Regions from separate parts of the Homo sapiens genome. Here all the other regions are linked to region 1. Evidence: fine-mapped expression QTL. A gene starts in region 1. Each other region holds a variant in brackets. All regions are shown on one strand. Distances are between the middles of the regions.

What was found.
Region 2: its variant is fine-mapped to the expression of CDON in whole blood (TOPMed, PIP above 0.99).
Region 3: its variant is fine-mapped to the expression of CDON in cerebellum (GTEx, PIP above 0.99). The same link has a PIP of 0.9 or more in cerebellar hemisphere.
Region 4: its variant is fine-mapped to the expression of CDON in sun-exposed skin (GTEx, PIP 0.95).

Annotation. Positions count from the first base shown.
Region 1 is chr11:126,059,048-126,066,931 of GRCh38, reverse strand. It overlaps CDON (cell adhesion associated, oncogene regulated), which reads left to right and starts at 4,066. Exons shown (of 20, transcript NM_001378964.1): 1 at 4,066-4,353. RefSeq lists silencers at 3,479-3,568, 3,639-4,308 and an enhancer at 6,509-7,884.
Region 2 is chr11:126,028,069-126,035,952 of GRCh38, reverse strand. All of the region lies in intron 1 of CDON (cell adhesion associated, oncogene regulated), which reads left to right. Among named protein-coding and RNA genes, the nearest start is that of CDON, 31 kb to the left of the region's middle. The variant AGTTG/G (reference allele first, on the strand shown) is at 3,691.
Region 3 is chr11:125,972,148-125,980,031 of GRCh38, reverse strand. It overlaps CDON (cell adhesion associated, oncogene regulated), which reads left to right. Exons shown (of 20, transcript NM_001378964.1): 18 at 1,649-1,728. Among named protein-coding and RNA genes, the nearest start is that of VSIG10L2, 30 kb to the right of the region's middle. The variant A/G (reference allele first, on the strand shown) is at 3,634.
Region 4 is chr11:125,998,908-126,006,791 of GRCh38, reverse strand. It overlaps CDON (cell adhesion associated, oncogene regulated), which reads left to right. Exons shown (of 20, transcript NM_001378964.1): 9 at 735-1,033; 10 at 2,716-2,890; 11 at 4,942-5,073. Among named protein-coding and RNA genes, the nearest start is that of VSIG10L2, 57 kb to the right of the region's middle. The variant C/T (reference allele first, on the strand shown) is at 3,585.

The DNA of each region.
Region 1 (7,884 bases):
ATGATGAAATCAAGACTCCAAGAGTTTAAGTTATTTGACCAAGATCAAATAAGGTACAGTCAGAATGTGATACAAGTTTATGGACTCTAGTTACTCTATTATGTTATTCTTGGAGAACCATTTTTGTTTTTGTTTTTGAGATGGCGTCTTGCTCTGTCGCCCAGGCTGGAGTGCAGTGATGGGATCTCGGCTCACTGCAAGCTCCGCCTCCTGGGTTCATGCCATTCTCCTGCCTCAGCCTCCCGAGTAGCTGGGACTGTAGGCACCCACCATCACGCCTGGCTGATTGTTTGTATTTTTAGTACAGACGGGGTTTCACCATGTCAGCCAGGATGGTCTTGATCTCCTGACCTCATGATCTGCCCGCCTCGGCCTCTCAAAGTGCTGGGATTACAGGTGTGAGCCACCGCGCCCGGCCTTGGAGAACCAATTTTAACATGTATTGAGTATTATAAAAGCACCCACTTCAGGCCTGGAATGTATTAAATGTCACTTAGTATCTAACAACCTTCCCACCTCATCCCTGAGGACTTGAGTACTTGGCTCATGGTATTTCATTTATCAGCCTCTCAGTTCCTTCAATATGTCCCCTGACGGCATAAATCATCCACATCGTCCACCAGCACCGGTAAACATACTAGATCTAATCATTACTTGGAACTGTTCTACTTCTGAAATGGTAAACTCTGGTTATTACCAAAGACTTCTTGGTTCTTTCTTACTCAATCCTGTAACAACAGCTCTTTAATGTCATACATATCTCCTTTTCTTTAATTTGTAATTTTTCCAGTCTATTATTCTTCTCAAACCTCTTACACCTTTTCCACTGCCTGGATTCTATGATTGCTGTTTTAAAAATTTTCTTACCAATACCGTGTGTTATTTTCCTTCTTGTACAACTTCCAGAAAAACTTCAAAATTGGGTTGGTGTTATGCTTTTCCCCTTCTACCTGACTGATTAAATTTTGATGGAGAAAACCACATAATCATGCAAGCTCCATCACCATACATTAATGGTCTCCAACCTCAGCCAGGCCCTCAGCATCACTTATCAATTCTCTGAGTGATTTTCTACTTTCATTTTTCAACTCTCATTTTTCCTAATGACTATTCCAAACCTTCACCACCTTCTTCAAGCATCCTTTTCAAGTCCCATACCTTGAGTTCAGTAAACAGCCTTTGCTCCAAATTCATCAAGATAATTGGGGGCTTTAGTTATTGGAGTTTTAGAGATCCATCCTTGGCTACAACTTTCTGGTTCCATATTATTCCTGAGAGATCGCTTCCACTTTAATGGTATAAACACTACTTTATGCTGATGACGTTTAAATCCGTATTTCCACTTGGAGTTCTCTACATAGTGGACATCTGTGGTTGGAGGCCCCATAGTGTCTTAGTCTGTTTCTGCTGCTATAACAAAATGCCTTAGATTGGGTACTCTTTAAGCAACAGAAATTTATTTCTCATAGTTATGGAGGTTGGGAAATCCAAGATCAAGGTGCCTGCAGATTCAGGGTCTGGTAAGTGCCTACTCCTTACAGATGATGACCTCTCTGTGTCCTCCCACGGCAGAAGGGACAGAAGGGGCTAGCTAGCTCCTTGAAGCCCTTTTATAAGGTCATGAATCTTGCTCATGAGGGTGGTCCTCATGACTTAGTCAGCTTCTAAAGTCTCCACCTCTTAATACTATCACCTCTTAATACTATCACCTCTTAATACTATCACCTCTTAATACTATCACCTCTTAATACTATCACCTCTTAATACTATCACCTCTTAATACTATCACCTCTTAATACTATCACCTCTTAATACTATCACCTCTTAATACTATCACCTCTTAATACTATCACCTCTTAATACTATCACCTCTTAATACTATCACCTCTTAATACTATACTCAATACTATACTGACCTTGTGTTCACACAGCTCCCTGTTCATTGCACTGAAGATGTCTCCTTGTACTTACCCACGTGTGTGTCTGTATCACAGTTAGACTGTGAGCTCTTTGAAGCTTGGGACTGCACATTGTTTCTTAATGTTGAACAAATGGATGAATGATTCATTAATGAAAAACTGTTTTACACCTGAAATGATTTCTCTGCTTTACAAAAAAAGGGGGAGAGGAAGTAATTAATATCAACAAACATTGTGATTTTTTTCTTAGTCTGACTATGAGTAACAGTAGGCATAGTGAATTCAAATGGCACTGTGAGATCTGGAGGTGCACAAAGTGCATTATGTCCCAGGAGAAGAACCTGGAATTCTCTGTAGCCACAATAAATTTGCAAGACTTCTATTAACATCCACACAAAACTCTCATTTCAGTTAAATCCTCTATAGAAAGACTTACTTGCCGAATGAAAAATCGTTTACCATAGCTTGTTAATAACATATAGATTCTTGGTCTCCAAAAGTGAACAATAGAACAGTGGAGGACAAACTAGAGTTAAGAGTTTTTTTCTGGCTGGGTGTGGTGGCTCACGCCTGTAATCCCAGCACTTTGGGAGGCCAAGGCGGGAGAATCATCTGAGGTCAGGAGTTCAAGACCAACCTGGCCAACATGGCAAAACCCCGTTTCTACTGAAAATACAAAAATTAGCCGGGTGTGGTGGCACGTGCTGTAATCCCAGCTACTTGGGAGGCTGAGGCAGGAGAATCGCTTGCACTCGGGAGGCGGAGGTTGCAGTGAGCCAAGATCGCACCATTGCACTCCAGCCTGGGCAACAAGAGCACCCCAGCCTGGGCGACAGAGTGAGACTCCGTCTTAAGAAAAAAAATTGTGTTTTTTTTTTCCGTCCTGTACTGACTTTCTTTCCAGGGGCTTTACAAAAACCCTGAATCTAGCTAATGCAGAAAGCTAACCTGCTTGAACAATACCACACTTTCAAAGCATTTCTTTTTAAAATTCACGTAAGAAGGTAAGGGAGGACTGGCATATTTCTCCTGAAGTTCAGTACTGAGTATTTATAAACTTAACTATTATTAGGGATCCTTTTGTAGTTAAGCTAATAGTAAGTAATGATGATGGGGAAAAAAAAGAGCTAACTGCTAATAATAACAATTTATAAAGAAGTTACAGTCCTTGAATGCCCACTGAGTGGCAGGTGCTTTTCACAAAGTATCGTATTTACGCTTCACAGCAACATTTTGAATAGAAATTTATTTTTCCTTTTTCTGTTTGAACAACTGAAGTTCATTGAGTTCAGATAACTTGGGGCAGGTCCAACGGACGAGTTGGAAAGACTCTGGGGCCAAAGGCTCACACCACGCCTCTCCTAGCCCCTGAGTTTTGCTACCTGCTTGCGTTTATGTGCAGGCAGGGCGGGTGGGTGGTGGTGGGGGAATCAGATGAAGCTGCCTAAGGAATTAAACATGGAAAGTGGTGGAAAGGCGAAGGAGGTATAAGCGGTGGGCCGCTGGAACCCTAAGAGAGACCAGGCAAGAACCGGGAGAAGGGATGCACCCGTTGGCGGCTCAGAGAACTTAGGTAGAGGCGAGGGGCGGGGCGGGGCGAGGGGCGGGGCCTGAACGAGGCTAGGGCGGGGCCCGAACGAGGCTAGGGCGGGGCCCGAACGAGGCTAGGGCGGGGCCTCGGGGGACAGAGTCGACCATTTGGAGACCTGCCAGAAGAGCCGTCTCTCCAAGGGAATGAAAGGTGAGGGGAGCGTGAGTGCAGGCATGATGGGAATCTCCGTGACTTGGTAAGGCAACTCACCCTTACCTGTCCTACACCCAAGAAAAGCCTCTTCTATGCTCCCCTGGGGTATCTCTCTTGCAGAGTAGGCAGGTCAATGACGAGGAGAGGGTCCTGCCCAGAGCGTGCCCCCCTCCGTCACTTGGTACGGCCCGTGCCCCCGCCGCTGATCTGGCAGGCTGCGCGCGCACACTCCGGCCGGGTGCGGGCCGGCGGGGCACAGCGGCCTCTACGGCCCGCCTCCGTCAGTCATTCCCCGGTCCCTCCTCCCGCTGCTCGCGTGCTCCGGGCCGGCCCAGCACCCTCCGAGTTACGTGCCCGCGCTCCCCGGCGGGGAGGAGCGCAGCCGCGGGGGCGCGCCCCGGTGACTCCGCCCCTCAGCTCCCCTCCCCTGAGCCCGGGAGCCCGGCTCGCGCGGCTAGGTGCGAGGAGACCCGGGACCCCACGCCCGCCCGCCCTGCCCAGCGCCCCAGCCCCGGCGTGCGAGGCGCCGCTCCCTCCTCTGCCCTGCGCGGTGCATGGAGGGGCCCGTTCGGATCGCAGCCGCCGCCACCGTAGCCGCCGCCGCGCGCGCGCGGGGGGATGACCTGGGGGTGGCTTTCCGAGCCGGCTGCAGCGCAGGAGGTCTGGAGGCTTAGCCAGCCCCGCGGAGAGGTGCGGGGGTGGGGGTCCCGCCGCAGGGTCGGAGGGAGGGGTGGCGCGCGGGCACTGGGCTTGGGGGGCCTTGGCTTAGGGGACGGGAGGTCCCGGGGACGGGCGGGCCGGCGTTCCCTGGAGGGCGTGGGGGTGCAGGGCTGCGTGCGGGGTCTGGATGCTGATGCTTGCCCGGCGGGGAGCCCCGGCGTTCCGCGTCCTCGGGGGCTCGGAGGCACCTCGCGGGAGGAGGCGGGGTGAGGTGTCAGTGACACGACGAAACCTCTTCTTGACGATGGTCCTCGGGGGCAGGTGAGATGCCGCAGAGCGGGGAGCTAGGGCGCCCGCGCGTTTTCCCAAGGGAGCCGGGTCCCTGGCCTCTCTCAATCTCCATCCCTGCAGAGCGCCCGCGAGAGACAGTGATTTATGTGTAGGGAGAAGCAAGAGAAATTTCCTGCACAATGTATCTTTCTCTGCCTTCACAAGACTCACTGACTTCCCAGCCCCAGGGAGTGTATTTTTCCTTCTCCTCTGTAAAGCTTTCTGTGGATTGCATTATCATTTGCTAAATACATTACAGCTCGCTATTTATTTCAGTCGGCAGCTTCCAGACCTTTGTTGCTTTCTCTCCACATCTAGGAATTTCAGCAATAAATCACTGAGGGGGATAGATAGACTCTCTTGCCCTTCCCTTCATTGTTCTCCCTAACCCCACCAAATCAGGTGGAAGGCTCTCCAAAAGGAGCTGTTTCCAGAATGCCTGCCCTTCCTCATCAGGACGACAGAGGGTGGCAGGTGCTTTAAGGGCAGACTGCTTTCCAGTGGGAATCCAGAATTTAGAGAACCTCATCAACAGAAAGTCAGCCTTTGTGTCCCAAACCAGACACCTTGAAAAACAGGAGGTTGGACTAAAAGCTCACATGAGATTTATTTTCAGGCCTATGCCAGTAAAGATGAAAGACGCCAAGTCAGTGAATTCTGATTCCTTTCGGCGCTGATAACATAACCCTCAAATTCCCAACTGACACTTGGCATACCTAGTGGACAGTGTCTCCAAGGAGAGGAAGGTGGGGAGGGTGTTAGAAAATGAAATGAGTTTATTGTCAGCATAATTCTAAACATTCTATGACATTTTGTAGTTCTCCCCCACCCTCAGTCTATTTTTAGCTGAAAATTTGGGGATAGTTCAACTTTTAAGATAAGATGAAAGAAAACCTTCAAAAAATTTTCTGGAAATTTTAAATTAGTGCTTAACTAGAAAGCATTCTTTGGAACCCGAGAAGCACCAAATACTGCAGTCTCTGTTATGCACATGTTGGAATGAACTGCCTCATACTTGAAGTTATATGAGAAGGATGGAGAAAACCTGTTTCATTTTGTAAAGACGTGCCCTGGGTGTGTGTTTGGCAGTGTGTAGAACAGAAACATTTATATTTCTATTAAGAAACACACAAATGTATACTGTTTAACTTTCATGCAAAAACTTCCCAGTGTTTGGGAAATCTGTCTTTGTTTGAATAGTTTAGTCAGCCAGGAGAATCAGTTACTAGAGGTACTGTGCTGTTGTTTGTGTAATAACTCACTTGGGATGCTTTGATTGATTGCCATGGTTCTCATCAGCCTCCTCTTCTGTGCAAAGTACTTAAACAGCTCTGACTCTCAAGCCTTCAAGTACAAAGAACCCTTAGGACTTGGATACTGATCTAGCTTGTGTAGCTTGGCTTCTAAATCTAGCTTACGCCTTGCTTTCTTTGCAGGTGGTTTGACTTTGCAGGAAAAGAATTAAGTTCACTTTAAGATAGGACTTTCTCCTCCAGATCGTCAGGGTATATACAGCTGAAGGCAGTAGGTAGGAATAGGAACTAATGTCCTAGGGCTTTGTTCTAAAGAGAGCAGGTAAAAATTTGTTGACTATTTCTTGGGCTTGCTTCTTATTTTCCCACTTCGCCCATCTGCCTTCATGACTTTGTAGACAATTTCATGTATGGTTTTGTCGAAATGTAAGTTGAAGTAAAATTTTCCTTCTGTAGAATTTTTTTTTTTCCACGAACGTTTAGACTAAAAATTGGTGATTGTTTCGAAGTTAAATACTAGGGAAATGATTTCAGGAATTAAATATTATCGTAGTAAAAATCAGGGAAGCGTTAGAAAATAAATAATGAGTTGAAAAATGTGTTGCTTTAACGTGTAATGATATGAGCCAGCGCCTTGTGATCAGCTATGGCATGATGTAGAAGTATGGGTAAGACAATACAGTGGAGCTGTAGATGAGCTGCGTACATGGTAGCCCCCCTTTAAGTAAATGAACTTAATACAAACTAATTAGATTAGAAACAGAATTTGGAGTATGGTTGCCAAATATTTTGAGTTGAAGGACTTGCTTTTTTACAGTATTTTTTAATGGGGAATTTTTTCAAGAAATTTCGTGAACTTGAATTTGAGAATGTTTTATTTTTACTTAAATTTTTATATTGTATGTAATCATTCCATGTGATAAGTTTTTGTTGTGTATTTGGCACTAACTCACTTTCAACAGCACAGGGGAGGGCTTTACTTGATTCTTTTTTGTTAAAAAGAAGGGATGGTGTATGGAATATTCTTAATGTCACTTGAAAAATATTGGATTACAATTAAATGAAAAACTGGTTTCTTGGTTTTTTTTTTTTTAATCCTTCAAGTTTTCCCTCATTGCTTGTGCTCTTTCCCCCATTGTCAGGCTTAAAACATACAGTATCATTGTCATCTGTCTCCTGAATAATGGTCCTGAGGTGATATTATTAATGTGGCTTTTTAAAATCAAGCTAATTATACTTGCCTAAAAGAGCCACATGTGTGTGATTCTAGCTGCCTGGTGCCTTTTGAGAGCCCTGGAGACAAGCTAGTGAATAGAGCTGAAAATTCATTCTGTATTTGATTAAATGGAACAGACTCGCTGCTCCTTACCCCAGCGGGGGCTATGAGATCTCTTGATCCCCGAAGCGGCTCCAAGACCCTGGGAATTCCATTAGCGAGCACCTGAGGAATTTCTGCCCTGCAGTGCCTTTTTTGTATGTGTGTATGTGTGTGTGTGCAGAGGGAGTGGAGCAGAGCGGGGATTGGGGGGATGCGGGCAGGGGGGGTTGAGGGGGTGGAGGGAAGGCTACATTAGAAGACTCCATATGTTGGCAGATCTAAAATCAAGGCATGACTTAACAGCTTATCTTGTAAGAGAAAAGCCCAACCCAAAGGCAGATTGCTAGTCCGGACTTTATTACAAGCAGGACTACAGTGATGTGTTTTCAGCACTGAAGTGAACTCCAGTGTAAGTACAGAAAGTGGCTTCTCTGCTTTCCCTCCGAAGCACAAGCATATACACGTTGCAGACTTGGTAAGTTTTCTTTGAATGATCTTTTGATAAATATGTAAAATTATCTTACTGTTTGGTCTTGCCTGTAAAGGCTGATGTATCGTTTTAATAACTTTCAAACTGAGAGCAAAATCAGACTTCATGTGAAACAAATGGTTTTGCAGTGATGAAATGCTTGTTTTAATAGGCATATTTTAGTTTACTAT
Region 2 (7,884 bases), 31 kb after region 1:
TGGCCTAGCAGAGTTGTTCCAACAAACTTTGCTTTATTTTTGATAGTCAGGCCGGACCTGATGCCAAAGGCCACTTCTCGGGCTTTTCTGCTTGGACTAAAACTTCATGCTATGTTGTGTTATGTTTACAAAGATATTGTGATCCTAATTGATTTGTTTTTCTATTTTCTAGTTTCATCAGGGCATTGTATCCTGATGGTTACTTTGGTTTTAACTGCCTGGCACTGATTTTGAGTTTTCAAGGGTGCAGGTTTTCCTGACATAGGCCAATTTGTGTTTTTACTTAATTTTAGACTTGTCAGTCAATTGGTGCCAATTATGTACTAACTGCATAGTAATCTGTGATTGACTTGTATGTCAGCTTATGAATGTGCTTGAAGAACCCCTTTATCAATGCACAGCCTCTCTTCCATGGTAGGATGACAGCTTTGATGAAGCTGTGTCTGACCTAATTCCCATTACCAGTTTGAACAAAGCAGGGGCTGATAAGAAATCTAGATTTCTTCCATTATTTTATGTGGCCAAGTTTAAAGATGGAATAAGGTACTTGGAAACTAGTATTAATATGTTCTAGGTCTCTAGGAAACTCGTAACTTGACGGTAAGATAATGTAAAAGTCATTGTGGCAGAGACCCAGTGTTCAGCCAGCGTTGATTCAAGTTTATTTGCAGCAAAGATCCTTTTCCAAGATTTGTTTTTTTCTTATCTGCCTTTTCAATGCTTGACTGTGTATATTTGAATAATGTACTTCATGGAAATGAGTTTCTCCTTGAGGATTTTTTCCTTGTTATTAAAATGGAATCTAAGCCAAACCCCATGAGGGTGAGTCTTTTGTAACTGCCAGGGAAACTCTTATACTTAGGTTAGTCCAGTGCATAAGTCAGTAGGGTCTAAGCAAAGCGCTGGACCTGTTAACAACTACGTTAATTATATTACCTAACACCTATATGGGGCACTTTTTCAAATGTTTCCATATTCCTCCTGCTCATCCTCCAGCAGAAGTTAGTCAAATGTGTGTCTACATCTTTGCAATAGCTAGTTCTTAGCAAACTTAGCTTTTAGCATTTGTTTTGTGGTTACCATAACGGTTATTTTTTCCCATAAAGCCAATTCCAGTGACAAACTTGAAAAGCTACCAAGTGCTGGATTTGTGGAAGTGTTGACTCCATGGGACTTGCAAAATAATCCCCTTGAAATTTTCTATATTTTGTCTTTTTAATAATCTCTCTCACGCTGCTTTTTAGAATTTCACCATTTGTATGCAGCTATGCTTTTAAATATTTATAATGCTCCTGTACAACCCACTGTGGATGCCAGGATTATCTTCACAATTCTTGGCTTCCTGTGCTCTAGTGGCAGGAAGAAATAGTCTCTTAGAAAGAGAGTGGAACAGGAACACTTGACTTTTTTTTTTAAACACACAAATATTGTGAATAGAACCTAACTGAGCTTTTGCCCCCTCTCCTTTGGTGTAATTAGGACCACATTGATTCCTGTTGCAGCTGGCAGCCCCTCACTGTTGCCTTTTTCTGCGTGTGACCCTTGATCTCAGTGACCTTTCCTGGGGTTCGTCCTGGGCCCTTTTCATTGTGTTGGAGCTGAAGAGGCTCATGTGGAGTTGATTATTTCTTTGCTCATTTGGCCTTTTTGGTGCCATAACTCCAAGTCACTTCCATTTTCTTCCTCTACTTTTGGCAGTCCACGGTGAAAGGAAATGCTTTCGCAGGCAGCAGGATCGTTTGTATGCTTGGCTGACTCGACTGAGACTTGGGAGAAGTGGGGGAAGGGTTGCGAAGTCTGTAGGTGTGAACTTTTTTTTTTTTAAGTTGATCTGAATGATTGCACGATCATTAATAAGTGCTTATAAAGTAAGTACTGTGGAAAGCTGCATTTCACACCCAGGGGCTTCATCCTGGCAGGAAGAGAGCACTCCCAGTGATTGGCAGGGGGCCTTGGTGTCTGAGATCCTGCAACTTTACTTTGATGAGATTTATATGTTCCTCCTATGGACTGGGAGTGATGCGGCAGGTCAGAAGATACATCATTGTTAATTGCACATGACTGCTTTAAGAAATTCTTAAGTTTCTAAAAGAACCCCCATACGCCCCAGAGAGTAGCATGCTATTAGATAGTATGTTTGTTGCGACTAGACTTGTAGCACTCTGTTTGCCTCTCCTTTCCTCCTGTAGAATCATGGAAGATGTATGCCAGCTGTTACTCTCATTTTGGGAGAACCCCTGTGGACAGCATGAAGACCGTCCCTAATCAAAGCCTTTAGTAAGCATGAAGGAATGTGTCTGATTACCCTACACTGTAGTACCTTGGAAAGGTATAACAGTGTGAAATGTGAAATTAAATCACATTAAGAAACTCATTTTTAAAGTCTGACTGTTTGACTCCATCCCTGGAATATCATTTCTGTCTTTTCCTTTTTTTTGCTTTAAAACTTTTTCATTAGTAGTATTGATAGTGTGGTTTATTTTGAATGAGGAGTTTCTGTCCCTTCAAGCATGATAGTTTTGGGATTCAGCCTGAGCCATAGTTCCGTGTGTCTGCTGTTGCCCACCAGAGTGTCATCTGCGACCCAAATCTCTTAAGAGCTTCAGGCTTCTTTCTGCTTGCCTGCCCAACCTTCCTTAGAACCCCACTTACCTCCAGCTCCTCTTGTTATCTCCACACCTTCAGACGCTCTCCATTCCCTCTACCACCTCAAACAGCAGCAGCAGACCACAGAAGACCCTGCTGCTCCCATCTCAGTAAATGCACATCATCCACTCACTCACTTGTCTGAGTCAGAAGTCTGGACAGCAGCCTCGATTCCTTATTTACAGTCACAGCAGTGGGGAAATAGAGCAGTGGACAGATGAATGGATTCCAAAGATGTCCTAGGTCCTAGTGGTCTATTCTTTTCCAGTCCAACTCATTCATTATCAAAGTCCTGTTGATCACAGGGCCTCACTCTGTCACCCAGGCTAGGAGTACAGTGGTGCGATCATAGCTCACTGCAGCCTCAACCTCCTGGGCTCCAGGGATCCTCCCACCTCATCCTCCCAAGTAGCTGGGACTACAGGTGTGCACCACCACACCTGGATAATTTTTGTATTTTTGGTAGAGATGGGATCTCCCTATGTTGCCCAGGCTGGTCTTGGAATTTCTGTGCTCAAGTGATCCACCCACCTTGGCCTCCCAAAGTGCTGGGATTATAGGTGTATGCCACCGCTCCTGGCCTCTTACGTCTTTTAAATATGACCGTGTCTTAAAAATTTTTGAAAAACCTTTCAAATTTATCCCGTGATATTTCTCCAGTACAGGTCCCCGTATCTCTCACCATAGCCTTCTAACTTCTCTTATCCTCAACTGTTTTCCACATTGCAGTGTCAGCGATTTTTCAAAGGTACGGGACTGATCATGTCCTTGCCTGCTTAAAAGCCTTTGACACCCTCCTCTCAGAATAAAAGCCAAACACTTTAATATGATTTATATTGTTCTTTACACTCTTGTTTCTGCTCATTTATGTTGCTTTCCCCTCACTGTGTCTTATCCTTCTCTTCTTACTGTATTTTCCAGCCCAGACATCCTTACTCTGATTCTACAAACACACTGTTCCTTCTGCTTGAGATACTTCCTTCCTTCTCTTCCTCCCTTCCTCTACTCCATCCCCCAAACGTATCCCTCTGATTTCACCTAGTC[AGTTG/G]TTTCCTCTGAGAAGTCTTCACCTCTCCAAGTACAAATCTAGGTTAAGTGAGCCTTCTCTTTTTCCTGGAGCACCTGTATTTGCTTTATTCTGTTGCTTACCTGTCCCTTTCTCATGTAACTGCTTTAATCTCTGAAAACCTTTATTTCCTAAAAATTCTGCCTTTTAGTGTAAAGCATGTCTATTGCTTTTCATGGAAAGAGTCATGATATGTTCTGTCCCAATCCAAGATAGCCAGATTTCACAGATAGAAAAACATGTCAATGGAGCAGTGAAAGCACATTTGTAGAGATGGTAAAAGATACTTTAAAAGTAAATAAATCCAGTTTGTTCTTAAATAAAATGCACTGAGTTTATTATGCTTGTCAAAGGAGGAAGAGAAGCCTTGAGGCTGGTGAAAGAGGAATGGTGAGCAATTCCTTCACGGGTGGTGTAGAGTCAGGAAATGGATTTTTGGACACTGGAAGTCATCTTAAGGCTCGTAGTTACCTCGCATTCAAACTGCACTTAGAAAATAAAAGCACTTAAAATCACCTTATGGCAAAACAAAAGCTCAACACAAGAGTGTTTCACAACTCGCGGAAATGGTGCACACACACTGCAGACAGAAGATTAGTAGAATCTCACTAATTAGTGGAATCTCACAGAAGATCAGGAGAATGCCCACTGTCCTCCCCCTCAGTTGGCATCTGAACACAAAGCACAATGTTTGAGGTCATCCAAACACAGCAAGCAATTCACTTTTTTCTACGTGACGTGGTGTAAAGTCTAAAAACTGTGGTATTATATAAATTGGTGTGTGCAGCTTTGCCTGAAGCTATAATATCACTTTTTAGAGTGTTTTCTTTAGTTTCTGATTGGAAAAGTTGTACTGAATAAAACGAAGCTGTATTTTAAAAAAAGTGAAATAACTTTCTAAGAGCCATTATTGCAAAAAGTTGCTATCTGAGCCATTCCCATGTTAGACGAGTCTGTATTTTAATTGCTTCCTTACTTGTCACATGTCCTCACCTGGTTGTAAGCCTCATGTGGGCAGACACTGTGTCTCTTTTATTCATGGTTGAGTTTCCAGGATAGCTCAGTGCCTGGTATATAGTAAGCATGCACCAAGTATTTACTGAATAAAAGATGAATTCCTCTGCTTTGAACTCTTTCAATACTTTTTACTCTCTTATTGCATTTAAGACTTTTTTCTTTATTCTGGAGATAATTATGTTCGTGCCCTTCTTAGTTGAGCAGTTTCCTTTAGTTTGGTATATCTTTGCACCCCTCATAGGTTCTTGCCCAAAGTAGATGTTCTATGTATTAAATGGTTTGATTGAATGAATACTTACTTGAAAAGCAGAGTTATTTGAGAAGTTTGTGTAGGAAATGATGTTAACTTCTTAGTTAAATTAAATATTCAGAATGAAGAAAACTGACAGGAGATTTAAAGTTGCCTGTGGTTAAGGTCAAGGTAGCCCAATGGGTTAAAAAACAGTATATACTATATTTGACTTCCATAATTGAAATTGGACTGCACTAATCTTGATAGTACTTAATGAAGAATTTTTAAGTAGACATGTTTTAGTTTTTCTTTGTAGTTCTGAAAATAATTTTTTCTTAGCTGATCAATAGCATATTTTGAGATAGATTGTTTGAAAATCGAGATGAATCATTGTTTTAAAAAAGGAAATTACCATGTTTCATACAGAATAAGATTCTTTTTAAAAAACGGAATCTAACTTAAATAATTTCCTATTTTGAAGAACTATAACTGATCTCAAAGCCAAGTTTTTGTTCACAAATTAATCACAGTTATTTCCTAAGCTTGAAAGAAAACTACAAGAAAGTTTGAAATAGGAGGCTAGGAAGAGGAATGATTCAGAAAGACAGCCTTCATCATCCTTATGAAAGCAAAGGCGTTGCTTCAAAAACAAAGTAATCAAATCTAGAAATTCAGGAAAGACTTTTCCCAAAGGATTATTCTGGCAGCATGTTGAAAAGGGGTTATAAAAGCAATAAGTTCACAACCTGAACAATAAGTTAAGTAAACGTTAGGAAAGTATTTCCTTTCTTATTCTAAGATGAGGTATACCTTTAGCTTCCCTCTGCCCACAGAAATGCTCTAAGCTTGGCATGGCATATAAAGTAGAGCTTATAGGACAGATTGCCTTCTATGTGGATGTGGGAGAAAGGCTTAAAGAAAGCCTTATAACTTAGGAAACACCAGCTGTTGTTTAGTGACATTTGGACTTTGGGAGCAGTACTTGTGCCACATGAGACTGGGGAGCCTCCAGAGATTTTTACAGCATTGAGCAATAAGTTGTCCTGCTTTGTAGATGGTTTAATGGTTTTACTACACTTAGCTGCATTTTGTGTGTTTGTGTGTGTGCATGTTCTACAATCTTTTTCCGGAGAGACTGTACTACCAGGCGCTTTCCTGAGAGCAAAGGGACCACTAAGCATCTTCTCAGACAAATCACCCACTCAGAATGTCGGTGAAAAGAATGGAATTGTGTTGGCCACTAGCTTTATATGAAGATGGGAAGGAGATGGAAGAACTTTCTCGTGGTCATGCTAATTCCATTTGAGACCACTGGGTTCGATGAGCCCGTCACTTCTGTTTTTCACATAAGGAATCAAATTCAAATTCTAACCTCTTCACTGATTTTATTACCTCTAGTAGATTAGGGAAATAGAGATACATATATATATATATATGTTACATGGACAAGAAAAGCAGTAAGAAAGGGAGAATACGGTTTTGAAATGAATGGCAATTTACTGTTTTGAATGTCAGCAAATATTCCCTTAGAGTGTCAGCAATTTTTGCATACAAATTTATTTTGAGAAACATGTGTAATGAGTTAAAACCACACGGTGTAATGACAGTAACTCCTTATTCTACTATATAATAGATTATGGGTAAAAAGCGAGATTTTGTGTCCACGTTGTTTTTTGTCATTGGAAGTTCAAGGATTGACAAGGTTTGATGAATATGGCCTGCAATGCCCATGCCTTACATTCTTTTTCCAGTTACTTTTATGTAACTTTAGAATATTGTTTAAAAAAATCCCTAATAGAGAGTGAAAGTTGCTTTATGCCTTAGCAAGTATTTTAGTTCATTACTCAAAGTCAAGATTCGTATCCACACTTTGCTTACCACAGTGTGAGGATCTAAACCATATGTCAGTGATGGGGAGTTACCTTCATGTGCCAATTTTGGTTGTGAGGGATGGGGTTGGCTATTGGGGGCCTCTTTTTGGAACACGACTTGACAATATGTATTAAGAGTCTTGAAAATGTTTGCACTCCCTGATCCAATAATTCTATTCCTAAAAATGTCCTAAGGGCATAATTAGAAGAGTGGTTTAAGATTTATGGACAAAATATTCATAGAGTGTTATCTAGAATAGCAAAAAAGTAACATATATATATATATACACACACACACATACATATACACATATATAAAAATGTAGCCTAACTATCCAAAAGAGAATGGTTAAGTAGACTAAAATACAAGACATAATAAATAAATAAATAAATAAATAAATAAATAAATAAATTCTCCGCAGCTGTTAAAAGTTTTATTTATGAAGAATTTTAATAAGGGCCAGGAGCAGTGGCTCATGCCTGTAATCCTAGCACTTTGGGAGGCTGAGGCAGGTGGATTGCTTGAGGCCAGGAGTTCGAGACCAACCTGGCCAACATGGCAAAACCCGATCTCTACTAAAAATACAAAAATTAACCAGGCATGTTGGCACGTGCCTGTAATCCCAGCTACTTGGGAGGCTGAGGCAGAGAGTCGCTTGAACCTGGGAGGCGGAGGCTGCAGTGAGCCAAGATCATGCCACTGCACTCCAGCCTGGGTGACAGCAAGATTCCATCTCAAAAAAAAAAGAATTTTAATAAGGAAAAATGATCACTAAATAATAAATTAAAGCATTTAAAACCCTAACATGTATTATCACAATTATGTAAATACCGTACACCACATATATGAAAAAGATGAGAAGGAAGTGCATCAGAATGTTGACATGCTATCTATAGGTGGCGAGATTGTCGTGTTTACTTTCCTTTTTATACGTTTATGTATTTTCTGCACATTCTGTATTGAATGTGTACTTTTTTCGGATGAGTATTCATAGAAATTTAGCAATTCTTGTAAAACCGACATATAAAATATGCGAAGAAAACTTGAATAT
Region 3 (7,884 bases), 87 kb after region 1:
GTTTTTTTTCCCCCCATCTTCAGTTTATTAAAGATTTATTAAAATCTATTTGGAGAACAAAACTAATATATACTCATATTTTAAAGCTAGAAATTGAATAGCTTTTATGTGACCTAGCTTTTGTATGTTGTGGAAGAAATATTAATTTGCTTTAATGCATCTCATTACTAAAAGAGAATCATGATTTCACTATTTTGTGTGGAAAGATACAGCATGTATTCAGACTTTCTAAGCTTTTTTGGTCACCATTCCTAGTCCAAACTACTACCATTGTCCAAGAAAACTGAAGGAGAGAGCATTAACATTTGAATAGCACACACTGTTTCCATAAGAAGAAAACATAAGGCCCATGTTCGCTTTAGTGTTTGAACACGGAACCTTGGGTTTTTTGAACAATGAATTTCTATTTAAATAATAGGTGCCCCATTTGGTGTACAATGTCAGAAGTTATCTGTGATTCTAAATTATTCGTTTTCTTACTTTTCTGGGTGGGGGAAATAGAGAAATTTTAACAGTGTTAGTGACCCTAAAAATCATTGCACTAACTTCAACGTGTTGAGGGATTCAGAGAATCCGTAAGTCACAACGTTACCCTGCAGGTTGTGAACTTCATTTTCTGAGCCTTTCAGGTTTTCCCTCAGATGGAATATAGTATAGGAGAGTTCTTTCTCTCGATATGTTCTTAATAATTCCTGTTGCTGGTTGGATCAGAAACACTGAAGGAAATTTTCAGGACTTTTGGTTTGCTTAGATTCTGGCTACTGTTATGAAATGAATGGAAATGGAAAGTATTCTAGGAAAAACAATTGCCTGAACTTTTCCTAACCTTGAAGGCCTGCTTTGGGTTTGGGTGCAGTGTGACAGCCTCTCCCACCTTTTATCAAATTCAGTTCTGCTGTTTTTCTTCTGAAAGCAGAATTCTGCCTCTGACTATCAGGCTAGTTTAATTTTTAACTTCATTTTTGAAGAACCTTGCTGTCTGTCAAGTGAACATTTTACAATGAGGTATGTGTTAATCTGGGCATTTTTCTTAATTGCTGGGCAGTTTCCGCCAAAAGCAACATCCAAATATTAACACACCCCCTCCAAGTCATTGCTGGCTGAAGATCTACTCCATCTGGAAAAATATAGCATGCTTTAAAACTTAGCGTTGTCAAGTGAACAGACCTAATTGAAATAATTACAGGAAAATGAAGATGAGTTTATCATGTGACATCATCTACACAGGTTTTACACCCTGTTTCTCCAACTGGTATCACATGAAATTCTTCCCTGACTGCCAAGAAAGGGAAAATGAATGGAGGCTATAACATATAATGTATTTTGAGCCCACTAGATTTGAAGGGAAGTGACTAAACTTTTCCCTTCATTTATTTACCTTTGTCTAGTACAGAAATACGTAGGAAAACATGGCAGTGAAGTTTTTGGAATACAGTTAAATCTAATGCAGAACTCTCATTCACTCCTTTGTGAATATGGGTCAGTGATATTCACAATGACGTTGCTCTGGGAGTTGGTTAGAATATACTGTGTGCCCATTTATGGTTGACATGGCTCATGTGTATTTGTGATTATTTGGCTACTGGTCTGTGAGTACCTTCAGCATTCCTTCTTCTTTTCTTTTTCTCTGACACTCCTTCCTGTCCAGGGTGGTGGAATGTACACGGCCGTGCCTCAGATTGACCCTCTGGAGTGTGTTAACTGCCGAAATTGTCGAAACAACAATAGGTATGTTAATAATGTGTCTGCACAAGCTGTTGTGAATAAGGCATATGCATCCTTTTATTTTTCCCTTCAGCAAAGAAAGTTCTTGGAATTTTACCTAGGATATAAAGTTCAGGATTTGCAATCTTAAATTTAAAGCTGTTACTAATTTTTTGCCTCTGCTTTCCAATTTTTGTCTTTTTGTGCCTCGGTTTCTTCAGCTATATAGAAACCATCTTAAAGGCTCTATTTGTCACTGAAATATTATTATAAGGCTTAATGTTTTTGAAAATTTTAAATTAGAGTCATTCTCTGTTATAAAGACTTTATCTTTTCTCACCTTTTATTTTCTACTCTATGTTATGGGATGTTATGAGGATGAATGACAGTGTTTCTGAGTGTTGGGGGGAGGGGGGAACCCTCTGTATATAGTAATTTTTTTCACAGTAATGTTACTGAAATTTTCCTACCAGATTATCCAGTGTTTTTTTTTAATTCTTAAAATCTTAAGAAAATTAAGCAGCAAACCCTTGCTTTGAATTTTGTGTTTTAATTTTAAAAGTGGTATGTACTCACAATATTTCAAACAAGATAGAAATATGGAGAGCAATGTGCATTTAACACATAGGATACTCGGCACACTTTCCTACGACCTCTCTCTATGGTAATCCCAAGGATTACCAAGCTTTTTGTTGTATTAAAGTTGTTTCAGAAATCTTAGTTCTTTCTTTTACATAATGATGTTATTGAATTACATGGTGTCAAAAGTCCTTCCTTCTCAGTCCTAAAACTCTACAACCAAAAAGATTATGTCATAGTTAGTACATAAAATAACTGGAGTATGGGTGGGAGTTTAGATATTTTATTATTGAAATGATGTTTGACCTATATATTTAAAATGGATTAACAGGTTAAGAGTTGTCTCTGGGAGTTATTGAAACCAGAACTTGAAGAAGGATCAGGCCAACCATCAAATTAAAAATACGTTGTTCCAGCCTGTGTTTTGAGAGTTGCAGAACAAAAGCAACAGAGCTTCTTGGAGATTGTTTGTTATCATTTACTTAACCCATTTCAGGGTGTCTATAAAAGAGCCATCTGCTTCTTTTATGTACTAAGGTTTGCTTGTTACGTATTTAAATTCTATATGACCCTGGTTTTGCAAATGTTCATAACATTGAAACCACATTTTTGTCTTGAGCTTTTCATGGACTTTACCGTAGTTTGTTAGGCAACGTGCTAAAGACCTGGTAAAGGTGGTTCATGTACCTGGCGAGTAATCAGACGGATTTAGTTACAAGTGGTCTTGCTTAAAATTTTAACGTGTTTTCTTTTGTGGTTCTTGGTCATCAGCAGATCTTGGTTCTCCTGGACAATAGAATGGTATAACGACAGGATCTCTGGTCTAAGAATAAGTAGACCTGGGCTGTGACATAGCTTAAACCTGTGATCTTGCGAAAGTAACGTAATGTTTCTGAAGCTATTTCCTTAACTAAAAAGGGGAAAATTGTCCTAGGTAATGTAAGATTGCTCCCAACATAATCTGACGGTAGTCTCTGGCAATTTCCTGCCAATCATGTCTTTTTGATGAAGTATCATCTTAATATCAAGAATGCATCCCATTTCCTTAGAAGGACTTATATGACCTCTGCCATTTAAATGACCTTGGCTTTGTGGCTATTTGTATGTGTAGTGTGTGTGTGTGTGTGTGTTTGTGTGTGTGTGTGCATGTGTGTGTATGTAGTATTTTAGTATTTTCAAGTTTTTATTATACAGTTTTTTTTTCCTTTAAGACAATGAACAATTGTATTTCTATTAATTTTCAAGTTAATGACTTACTACATTTCATGTGTGTGGGTTTTACTGTTATCTGGGAATTTAGGTGAATTCTCTTCAGCTTGGAACACCAGATTCTTTTTCTTCCTGGTTTCA[A/G]TTTTCTTCCTCATGAGAATCTGCCTGTTTAGTGCAAGTCTTTACTTGCCTGCATTGCCTTCAAGGTTAGCCAGTGTCTCACCTGGCTCCCAGGAGCAACTGTATGATTTTGACACTCAATAATTGGACAGATAAGTATCAATAAGTACCTACCTTCAGCTCTAGAAAATTTGAATTATTAAATTTAAAGATTTTAAGTCTTTTCACTTTGGAATTGAGAACAGGTATCTCCTCTTAAGATCTTACAAATGACAAAATTTGTAAAAAGCTGTGAATGCCGAAAGGTAGATGATACGTGGTTTACTCTCAAAATATAGAAAATTATAGTCAATTTATGCTTTTAGAATATCGACATTGTTACTATGAATGAGTTTGCATTTCTGAATATCAGCTGAAATAGTGTAAACATAAAAAGAAGCGTGATTTCAGTTAAGTTATATGAGGGCTATCAAGTGGGCCTCATATGATTTTTGGCTGTTCAGTCAAACAAAACAAAACAAACATTTACTGAGCACTACCCAGGCTCTGGACTAGGTTCTGAGGTGTTTCCCCGTAGAAGGAATGTAAGAACAGTCATGGACGTAGAAAGGATAATGTTTACATAAGAATGAATAGGCGACTTCAGTGGTTCTCAAACTTTAGCGTGCATCACTTGAAACACTTAATAAAAACGCACATTACTAGGCTCTACTCCCACTCCTATTCTTAGACCAGAGTTTCCCATTCAGCAGGTCTAGGGTGGGGCCTGAGAATTTGCATTTCTAATGAGTTCGCAGATGGTACTGATGCCCATGGTCCTGGGACCATGCTTTGAGAACCGCTGGAATAATTTGATCGGCTGTGAAGTGCAACTAGAGAATAGTAGGATATTGAAATTGGACAACTGGACTGAGTTTATATAGTGGATAACCCTGAATGTGAAGGTTTAGTAGTTTATTTAATAAACAAGTCCTATTACTTAATAATAGTCCTATTAAATATTATTTATTAAATAAGCAAGTTTATTTAATAAACAAGGCCTTTTATTGAGTGCCTGTCATGTACTGGGTACTGGCCTAGGCCCTGCCTTCAGAGAGTCCATAGTCTAACAATAGTGATTCTCAGACAGAGGTAGGGATATAGTGAGTAGAGTTTGAAGAAGCACGTTGAGTTTTATAATTTTATATTTAAAGAATAGAAAAAAATCTCTATGTCTGTAATGTCTATGTATACAAGGGTATGCAATTTTTATATTAATCAAAAGGGGATATGCGTTAAATGTTGAGAAACACTGGGGTAGCAGCATCATAATTGTTGCAAAGCTTATTGAGAACAGGAATGATCTGTTCAGAGATATGCTCAGGCTGGATGAAAGATGGCAGTGCACAGGAGGGAAGGGAGGGAGGGGATCAGTGAGACATGGGGAATGGGGATGAAGAGGAAGGGATGAGTGAGACTGCAGACATGGAGTCTTCAGGACTTGGCCATTGACTGACAGGGATCTAGAAAAACAGAAGATTCCAGATGTGTAAGAAGTTTCAAACATGGATGATCTGGGTGGTAGTCATAGTAATAAGAAACTTAATAAAATGATACATCATAAAAAGGTGATAAATTTGGTTTTAGAGTTGAAGTATGAGTTGATATCTTAAGGAGAAAGATGAAAATGCTGGTCTTGGCTTCAGGGGGTAGAATGGAACTGTGATACAGATTTAGGACCATTTTAAGTTCTATCCAAGTAATAGAACTTAAAAACAGATGAGACACCAAAGGAGACAATATCCTTGGCAGATTGATTATTTTTATATATTTAATTATTTGATGCATTTATTTGCTTTTATTATGTATTTAAAGTGATTAGACATTCTTTTTATAAGACATCATATCTTTTGTTATTTTTTCTTACTGCCTTAATACATCTTCAGAGAATAACAGAGATGGGAAAAGGAGAATGATAAAATAAGGAGAGTAAAAAAGAAAAAAAGAATTCCCTCCCTCCCTCCCTCCCTCCCTCCCTCCCTCCCTCCCTTCCTTCCTTCCTTCCTTCCTTCCTACCTACCTACCTACCTACCTACCTACAAATGTTTGCTGCAGGTCTCTAGTGAGCCAAGCACCAAACTAGGTACTGGGGATATGGCAGTGAGCATAACAGGCATTGCTCCTGCCTGCGTGGAGCTTAGAGTTTAATAGGGGAGACATATCTTTTAAGAAAATGACATAAATCGGCGGGGTGCAGTGGCTCACGCCTGTAATCCCAGCACTTTGGGAGGCTATGGCGGGCGGATCACCTGAGGTCAGGAGTTTGAGACCAACCTGGCCAATGTGGTGAAACCCCATCTCTACTAAAAATACAAAAATTAGCTGGGCATGGTGGCAAGTGTCTGTAATCCCAGCTACACCGGAGGATGAAGCAGAAGAATCACTTGAACCCGGGAGGCAGAGGTTGCAATGAGCCAAGATCACGCCACTGCACTCCAGGCTGGGCAACAAGAGCGAAACTCTGTCTCAAAAGAAAAAAAAAATGACATAAATAATAAAAATGAATATGTAATTAAATCTGGATGCTTTAAAGGAAAAGTAAAGAATGTGGGAGAGAGGAAAGCCCTCTGTAAGCAAGTGGCATTTTGCTGAGCTCTGAAGATTTATAAAATTAGGTCTAAGGGAAGGAAATAAGTTTAGAGCTTTCCAGGCAAAGGGGACCATTTATACACAATCTCTAAAACAGAATGCCTGAATCCTCAAAGAACTTAAAGAAGGCCAACATAGCAGAAACCTAGTAACTGGAGGAGTCAGAATTAAAAGGCGAGTGAAATCAGATCACACAGAGCCATGGCACATCTGTGGATGGTTTTAAGCAGGAATTCGTTTTTGTTTTTGTTTTTGTTTTCTGAGATGGAGTCTCACTCTGTTGCCCAGGCTGGAGTGCAGTGGCACGATCTTGGCTCACTGCAACCTCCACCTCCCGGGTTCAAGCAATTCTCTGCCTCAGCCTCCCAAGTAGCTGGGATTACAGGTGCCCGCCACCACGCCCGGCTAATTTTTTGCATTTTTAGTAGAGACGGGGTTTCACCATGTCAGTCAGGCTGATCTTGAACTCCTAACCTCATGATCCACCCGTCTTGGCCTCCCAAAGTGCTGGGATTACAGGCATGAGCCACCATGCCCAGCTGAATTTGGGTTTTTAAAGAACACTCTGGATGCAGTTTGGAGACTAAATTGGATGGGGCAGGAGAGGATACCTGGAGACCAGTTAGATGGCAGTTGCAGTAGTCCAGATGAGAAACAGTAGACTAGCATAGTTGTAGGGAGAGAAAGAGAAGAATTTTGAGAGAATTAGGATTTAGAAGGAGATGAGTCTGAATGAGTCTGAGGGATTTAAAAAAAAAAAAAAAAAAAAAAAAGACCAAGTAATTGGTTGAAGAGGCCAGTGGAGGAAGCAGTTGAAGATGATGTCTAGGTGTCTGGGCGCAGTCACTGAGGCAGAGAACACTGCAGGAGATGAAGAGGAGCTGCCCCACAGTATACTTCTGGAGAGTTGTCCTCTGAGATCTGGTGGTGCCTCTGCAATTCGCCTTCTTTATTCCACAGATACTGAGAACTGGAGAAGTCTTGCATGGGGCCTTTTCCGTACGGACTCTTACCTGCTCTGTGCCCTGCCACTCCAGGTTCTTTTTTCTCTGCCTTCTCAGTTGTAAACTTAAGCATATTTCTTGGAGTGAGCTTTTAAGAAACATTGCCAACCCTTGACCCCTTTTATCACCCATCTATTTTAGTAATAACCATCTGGAGGGAAAACGTTGCCTCTATTATGTAAATGAGAGTATGATGTGAAAAGTTGAGAGCAGGTGAGGGGAGGGTGCACTGTATAGATCTGTGGGGAAGTTGTAGTTGATTCTGGGGCTCTTGTGACATGCTGTAAATGACCGCTTGCCTCACTGGGTTCCATGACCTTGAATCCTTTTTAGTTTCTTTTGATTTTCTTTTGTTTTTTTTGAGACAGAGTCTCACTCCAGTACCCAGGCTGGAGTGCAGTGGTGTAGTCTTGGCTCACTGCAACGCCGCTTCCTGGGTTCAAGCGATTCTCATGCCTCAGCCTCCTTAGTAGCTGGAATTACAGGCGTGTGGCACCATGGCTGGCTAATTTTTTTGTATTTTTAGTAGAGACGGAGTTTTGCCATGTTGGCTAGGCTGGTCTCGCACTCCTGGCCTCATGTGATCTGCCCGCCTCGGCCTCCCAATGTTCTGAGATTACAGGCGCGAGCTACCGCGCCT
Region 4 (7,884 bases), 60 kb after region 1:
CAAAGAAATTATTTTTATCTTCCTCTGTATATTCTGTATGCTGTTAGTAGTAAGTGTTAAGGCTGCCTGCTTGTTTTATCTTTTTAAATTTTTTTGAGAGGTGTAGTTGCAGGATCCCCTTGGGTAGAAGTTAGCTGGCCTGTTGCCCAGGCTGGAGTGCAGTGGCACGATCATGGCTCACTGCAGCCTCAACCTTCCCAGGCTCAGGTGATCCTCCCACCTCAGCCTCCCAAGTAGCTGGGACTACAGGTATGCGCCACCACGCCTGGGTAATTTTGGTGTTTTTTGTAGAGATGGGGTTTCACCATGTTGCCCAGGCTGGTCTTGAACTGCTGGGCTCAAGTGATTCCCCTGCCTCGGCCTCCCAAAGTTCTGGGATTACAGGTGTCAGCCACCATGCCTGGCCAACTTGAAATCTTCTGAGGTTAAACTGGCAAATGATTATTACTAAAAAGAATACTCTTAGAGAACAAGGAAAAAATAAGAACGTTTAACTGCTACACTATTGCATCATATAATTGGTTTTTCAAGTAATTCATTTGCTCCACCATGAGAAAAGATTGCAATTAGAGGTTAAACATTTCCATGAATTATAAATGGCAGTGTTACCCGTTTTAACTTCTGGGGCTCAAATTGTGCTAACAATACAAGTGAGGGCAGTCACGTCACAAACTGGGTAGAAGACAATGAAATGAGGAGTATCTTCAAGCTGTCTCCTCTCTCTCTCCCTGCAGTTCCTTTTGAAACAAATACAAAAGCAGAGACAGTCACACTTCCTGATGCTGCTCAGAATGATGACAGAAGTAAGAGAGATGGTTCAGAAACTGGGTTACTGAGCTCATTTCCGGTGAAGGTCCATCCCAGTGCAGTGGAATCAGCACCAGAGAAAAACGCCAGCGGCATCTCTGTTCCTGATGCCCCCATCATACTGAGCCCCCCACAGACCCACACACCAGACACGTACAACCTGGTGTGGAGGGCAGGCAAGGATGGTGGGCTGCCCATCAATGCTTACTTTGTGAAGTATCGAAAGGTAATGTCTTGTCGTTTATCATCTTTCTCGGCTCACACCTGAACGTTCTTTGTATAACATATACTGTTGCCTTTTCATTTGTAGAATGGCAGGAAACAGAACAAGAGTCTTCCAGACTGATGAGTTTGTCAGAGAGATCCCAGTCATGCTGGATTTACCAATCCTAGGAAAGCACTGAGAATGAAGTATAATTTCCCCCCAAATTGGAATTCTAGGAACCCAATGATGTCTTTACATGTGTATTCAAATGTTTTAGCCCTTCAACATAAAGCTCTATAACCACTTTTAAAACACAAATTCCTTCCCTCTCTAAGGTAGTAGAATACCATTTATGTAGCAAATAAAGCAGTTTCTTATTAAAAACAACTGTTTGAACAGAGTTTCTGGCATAATTTATGCCAATTGTTTGCATTTCAAGTTTTTTTTTGTTTGTTTGTTTGTTTTTTTTTTTTTTTTTGAGACAGGGTTTTGCTCTGTTACTCAGGCCACAGTGCAGTGGTGTGATCTCGTCTCACTGCAACTGCTGCCTCCCGGGTTCCAGCAGTTCTCGTGCCTTAGCCTCCCAAGTAGCTGGGATTGCAGGCATGCACTACCACACCTGGCTAATTTTTTTGTATTTTTAGTAGAGATGGGGTTTTGCCATATTAGCCAGACTGGTCTTGAACTCCTGACCTCAAGTGATCCACCACCTAATCCTCCCAAAGTGCTGGGATTACAGGCATGAGCCACTGTGCCCAGCTTCAAGTTGCCTTTTTAATTGTATTAAAGTCATACATTGTTAGGTCATTTTTGGTGGTAAACCTTGGGCCTCTCTCAGTTAACTCTTCAAATATCATTTTCCCCATGGGCTTGTGTTGGAGCAGAATGGAAAAGCTCCTCTCTGTTTAATGAGACCAGTACATGAATGAAATGGGAGGGATGCATTCCATATTTAAAATCATTTTCTTTGTCCAAGAAATTTTAGTATACATTGTTGAATGGTAATGTTTTTAATGACTAGGAAAAATAACATGATGATATTTTAATATGATGATATTTTAAGGTTTATGTACTATTTCCAACCTGATGAATGATTCTAGATAAAGAAGTTTTGCTAGTAATCTCATCTACCCTAATACCTCCATGCAATATTGTTTCTTGGTTCCATTAATCAAGAAACAACTGATTAGATCTTTTTATTTCCTCTAACACATATTGAACAGTGTCAAGACATGAAGCAAGAATGCTGGAAATATACATAATTATATAATTCATATACATATAACATAATATAATATTGTCTTAATTTACCATGTATCTATTATGTGTATTATATAATTACCAATGATACCTATTATTTTATACTTATTTTATTCTTCATTAGCCCAGGAAGAAAGAAGGCATTGTTTCCATTACAAGTAAAGGAAACAGAGTCTGGGAGGGCAGTAACTTGCTTGAGGCCACACATTAGTGGTCAGATGCAGAGCCAGGAGTCTTTCTACAGTGAGAATTGCAGCGTTCTTGCAGCAGATCTTCTATTTCTTAATATGAAGAAGTATTGTGTCTTTTTTACTTACCATGCTGTATTACTTCTTAAAACTCTTCTAGAATTAAATGAATCCTAGTTTTGATCAAATGTGACCGAAAGATTTCCTATCCTCCATCTCCTGCTTTTCTTTTCTGGTGTGTTTTCTCTTGGGCAGCTGGATGATGGGGTTGGCATGCTGGGAAGCTGGCACACGGTTCGAGTCCCAGGAAGTGAAAATGAGCTCCATTTAGCTGAGCTGGAGCCATCTAGTCTTTATGAAGTCTTGATGGTAGCAAGAAGCGCAGCAGGTGAAGGCCAACCTGCCATGCTTACCTTCCGAACCAGCAAAGGTGAGTGAGGGCTTCCTTTGGAGGAATGAGCTGGCTGCCCTGATGTCAATTTATTAGTGAGAATTATTAATTTATTTTTTTTGAGATGGAGTCTTGCTCTGTCACGCAGGCTGGAGTGCAGTAGCACAATCTCAGCTCACTGCAACCTCCGCCTCCCCGGTTCAAGCAGTTCTCCGGCCTCAGCCTCCCGAGTAGCTGTGACTACAGGTGCGTGCCACCATGCCCGGCTAATTTTTTGTATTTTTGGTAGAGACGGGGCTTCACAGTGTTAGCCAGGATGGTCTCGATCTCCTGACCTCGTGATCCGCCCACCTCAGCCTCCCAAAGTGCTGGGATTATAGGCGTGAGCCACTGTGCCCAACCAGAATTCTTTTGGATAGTAGAAATTCCTATATGTAAATTCACTAAACGACCCTATTATAGCCTCCCCCTTCCATTTTGGGGTCACATTTACGTGATTGTATTGTCCTATTCTATAGAATATTCCACAGATGTTTTTGAAAGCTTATGTTATACAAGGCAATGAGGATAGATGATATAGGGAAAATGAAGATGGTCAAAATGAGATCCATCCCGACAGAGCTTATACTTTGATAAGAAAGCTAAGATGTGTAACTTAATACCAACTACAAGACAGTATTCAGTTCAGCTAATATTTATTGAATGCCTTTTACATGTTAGGCAAGAAGCAAAA[C/T]AGACAAAACTTGTGGCCTTGTAGAGCTTACATTCTAGTTGAGAGAGACTTACACGTAAGTTATAAGTACATTAGAAGGTGTTAACAGAGATATAAGTTAGGGGGTGGATACAGGAAGTATATGGGGTAGGAGTTGTTAACAGTTTAAGCAGGTGGCCAGAAAAGTCCTCAATGAGCGGTCGACATCGGAGCAGAGACATGAAGGAGGGGAAGTAGAAAGCCACGTGTCTCCCTAGAGAAAGAACATTCCCAGCAGAGATGGCAAGTGCCAGGGCCCAAGGTTGGGTGTACATGGTGTTCACTAGGAACACGATGGGGCTGCTGTGATGGGAGCAACGTGGGTGAGGAGGCTGTAGGGGAGAGATCCCAGGGAACAACGGGGTGTCCACATCACACAGCACACCATCCACCTTGGGACGACTTTGATTTTACCTCTGAGTGAGCTGAGAAGAGCTGGAACATTTGAGCTGGCTGGAGTCTGGATAGTGTGGAGGTGGGCAGGATTGTAGGCAAAGAGACCAGAATATGCCAAGTACCACAGGAGATTTCCAAGGACAGTGCTGGGGAAGCACAGAGGAAGGATATTCTTTCTGCAGGGCGGCTTGTGAGGGAAGGCTTGATAAAAAAGATGCCATCGTGGCTTGGCTGTAAATGAACAAAGAGACGTTAGTGGGTAGAGAAGGGAACTGGGTGGAAGAGTATTTTAGTATGGCACTGTAACGAAAAGGAGGTATGAAGATTGAGAAGAAACCAACTAGTGGCTTTTGAAAAAGACCCTTTCATCTAATTACTAAGTCTGGCCAGAAAAATAACGAGTACTTTCTATCTTAAATGTATCTTGAGTTCATTTTCATAATCAGTCATTAGGTGTTCATGGAGTCTGACCTATAAATACTGAGTAATCATGCATTTCAGTTTTTAACAAATCAATTTCACTTTTTGCCTCTTGAAATATTAAAACAATGTGAGGCTTTTCCTTAGAAAACTTAGCAGAAGCTCTTTAATGGTGAGTTTTATAGCTTAGAATTAAGAAATATATACAGTAAAAAGAAAAATGGACTAATAGTTTGAACACTTAGTCATTTGGCTTTTTCACCTATTTTTTTGCATACGTAAAGTTAGAATGAAGAAAGACATTTTAGCTTTATTTTAAAGATACTAGAAAAAAACAAAGTAATTTTTGGTCAGTTCCTCAGATCAGCTAAGTATTTATGAAGTAGGTCTTACATTTAGATGCTGTGTCTGATAAGTTCATAAATTTATAACCACATACCAGGTAAGTTTCACAGTACTCTTTTTTTTCCACTTTACATACATATATGCTTATGTTACTGTATATGTTTATTTACCTTTCTAGAAAAAACAGCGTCATCAAAAAACACCCAGGCATCCTCTCCACCCGTGGGCATCCCTAAGTATCCCGTTGTTTCAGAGGCTGCAAACAACAATTTTGGAGTGGTACTTACAGATTCCTCTAGGCACAGTGGAGGTAAAAAGAAGAATATTTTATTGTTTCTTTACAAATATAACTGACCTGCTTCAGATTTTGGGAGGTGGGGTGGAATAGGGTGTTTGTTTATTTTCATATCTTACCATACAGTTCTTTTAGGTTCTATTTCAACAATTTTAATGTCCTATATTTAAACTTTAGCATCTCAGTATCATGATTAGTACTTAACTTCATTAACTCTGACTCAAAATGTTCTGGTACTAAGTTTTTAGAACTCAAGAAAGGAGTTTTGTGGCTAGGCACTGTGGGAGGCTGAGGTGGGCAGATCACTTGAGACTAGGAGTTTGAGACTAGCCTGGGCAACAGAGGGGGAGACCCTGTCTCTACTAAAAATTCAAAAAAATTAGCTGGGTGTGGTGGCACACACCTGTAGTCTCAGCTACTCAGGAGGCCAAGGTGGGAGGATCGCTTGAGTCTGAGAGGAAGATGTTGTAGTGAGCTGAGATCACACCACCGCACTCCAGCCTGGATGACAGAGTGAGACCTCAAAAAAAAAAAAAAAGAAAAAGGAAGGAGTTTTCTGTTTCTTCTCTGGTAAGAGAAGGACATTTATATTTTGAACTCTGAAAATCTCACTTTTCATGTGTGTGACTCATCAAAATGTATAGTGGTACCTGTGGTAAGTTATTTTACTGAAGGATTACATGTTACTTTTTATTTTTATTTTTTGCTATATCTAGTTAATCTTATGGTTTTTAAAGGTCTTAGCTGTATAATTTTCAAAAGACTTTTTTAGTATTTCAATTTCACACTTATATGAGCACTACACTTATAGCCAGGTGTGCTTTTTGTGATTGTCCTAAAACATCAGGCAGGACATCTAGGGAAGACTTAAAATTTCATTGCTAAGCTCTGAGAATTTTCAGACTTCTCTTCCATATTTTTACAGTTTTCCATGAATTGATGTCAGACAAAAGCAGGTTATAACACTTTGAACTCCCTCCGAAGCACCTCTGTATCTTCAATATCATGAATCTCTTTTACTTGAGTGCTCTTATCTTTGAGGCACGTTTCAGCTACCTTAAGCAGATTACGTATATGAGTATTAATTTCATGTGAATAAAAGTAATGTCTGAAAAAAACCTTACCATTTATTTTATACACCCTCTGGCAGATACTGTATAAAATGCTGGAACAGCAAAGATAAAATAATCCTTGCCTTTAAGAAGTTTACAATATAGGCCTAGCATGGTGGTGCACAGTGGCTCACGCCTGTAATGCTAGTGCTTTGGGAGGCTGAGACAGGAGGATCGCTTGAGTCCAGGAGTTTGAGAACTGCTTGAGCAACGTAGTGAGACCCAGTATCTACAAAAAATTTTAAAAGTAGCCATGTGTGGTGGGGTACACCTGTAGTCCTAGCTACTCAGGAGGCTGAGGCAGGCAGATCTCTTGAGCCCAGGAATTTGAGGCTGCAGTGAGCTATGATTGTTCCACTGCACTCCAGCCTGGGTGACAGAGTGAGATCCTGTTTCTATTTTTTTAAAAAAATTACAGTATAGTGGATGATATAAATACCTAAACCCATTAACAATATGTGGATAATATAGACAAACTGATAACAATTTTGATTGCTTATGCTCGAGATTATACCCTTGGTGTTATGGGTTCACGAGAAATATCTAAGTCAGTCACTCAGTGTAGACAAGGGTGAGTAGATAAGAGAGGCTTCTCTGCATCATAAGCTAAACTTCAAAGGAGAACGACGATACAGACAGATGAAACAGCAAAAGAGTTTCTAGCAAAGACATCTCGACAAGTGGCTGATATGTTCTATTATGTTTAGAGATTGAGAGGTTAGAGATTTTATTTAGTGTGACTGGTTACTGTGGGGAATGCCTTGTGTGATATGCTTCAAAGTTGAATCTTTCCTTGAAAGCTATAGTGAACCCCAAAGGATGTTAGAGAAGGAGAAGGGAGGAATAGCAAAAGAAAAGGCTAGAGAAATAAGGGGAGTGACAGTGTGGATGGAGGAAGGGGAGGACCTGTATGAGAGATTAAGGGAATGGAGTCCACACTGAATGAGAAGGAGAAAGATGATGGATTGGGTGTGGGCACCAGAAGACCATTTACCAAGATAAGTAGTAAGAGTTTTTAGGTGAAGATTATGGATTCAGTTTTGGAAATGATGAGTTTGGAGTTGTCCAAGAAGAAATAACCACAAGAAAAGATTTATTTAATATTCAAAACAACCTAATGAGGAACAGATTTCCACATCTGTTTTACAGATTAGGAAACTGACACATGAGGAGGTTAACCATGCACGATGCCTCAGATCGTCCAGAAAGTGGAGAAACGGCTTGCTACCCAAGTCCGCTTCTAACTCCAGTGCCGTCTTTCTTTTCTACCTTGTTAACAGTCACATGCTATTTCTTTTAGATATGGAAGGTATTATTTTCCGTGCAGACATTTTCCCCAATAACTTTCTTTTTCCTATTTGAACTGTGGTGTTTGGTGAGTTTTGATTTCAGACGAATCAACATAAGGAAGTTGTTTGGTTTTTCTAGTATTAAAAAAGATTCACTAACCATACTATTCATTCTGTTTTCATTGCTTTCTAACTTGAAAGGAATACAGTAAGTATCACTCAGCATTGCCTGCTTTGAATACATTCCTCTTTTATCCCTTAAGCAATTTATTTTTTTTAAATGCTACAGTTTTCTCCATACAAATACCACATTCAACTTTATTTTCTTCTTTCGTATGTATTTGTATGGTGGGTTGAAGACATGTTGAGGTGGAAGGGTGTTGCTCAATTGAGGAGCATGGCATGGGCTAGAGATGGGGCTCCCT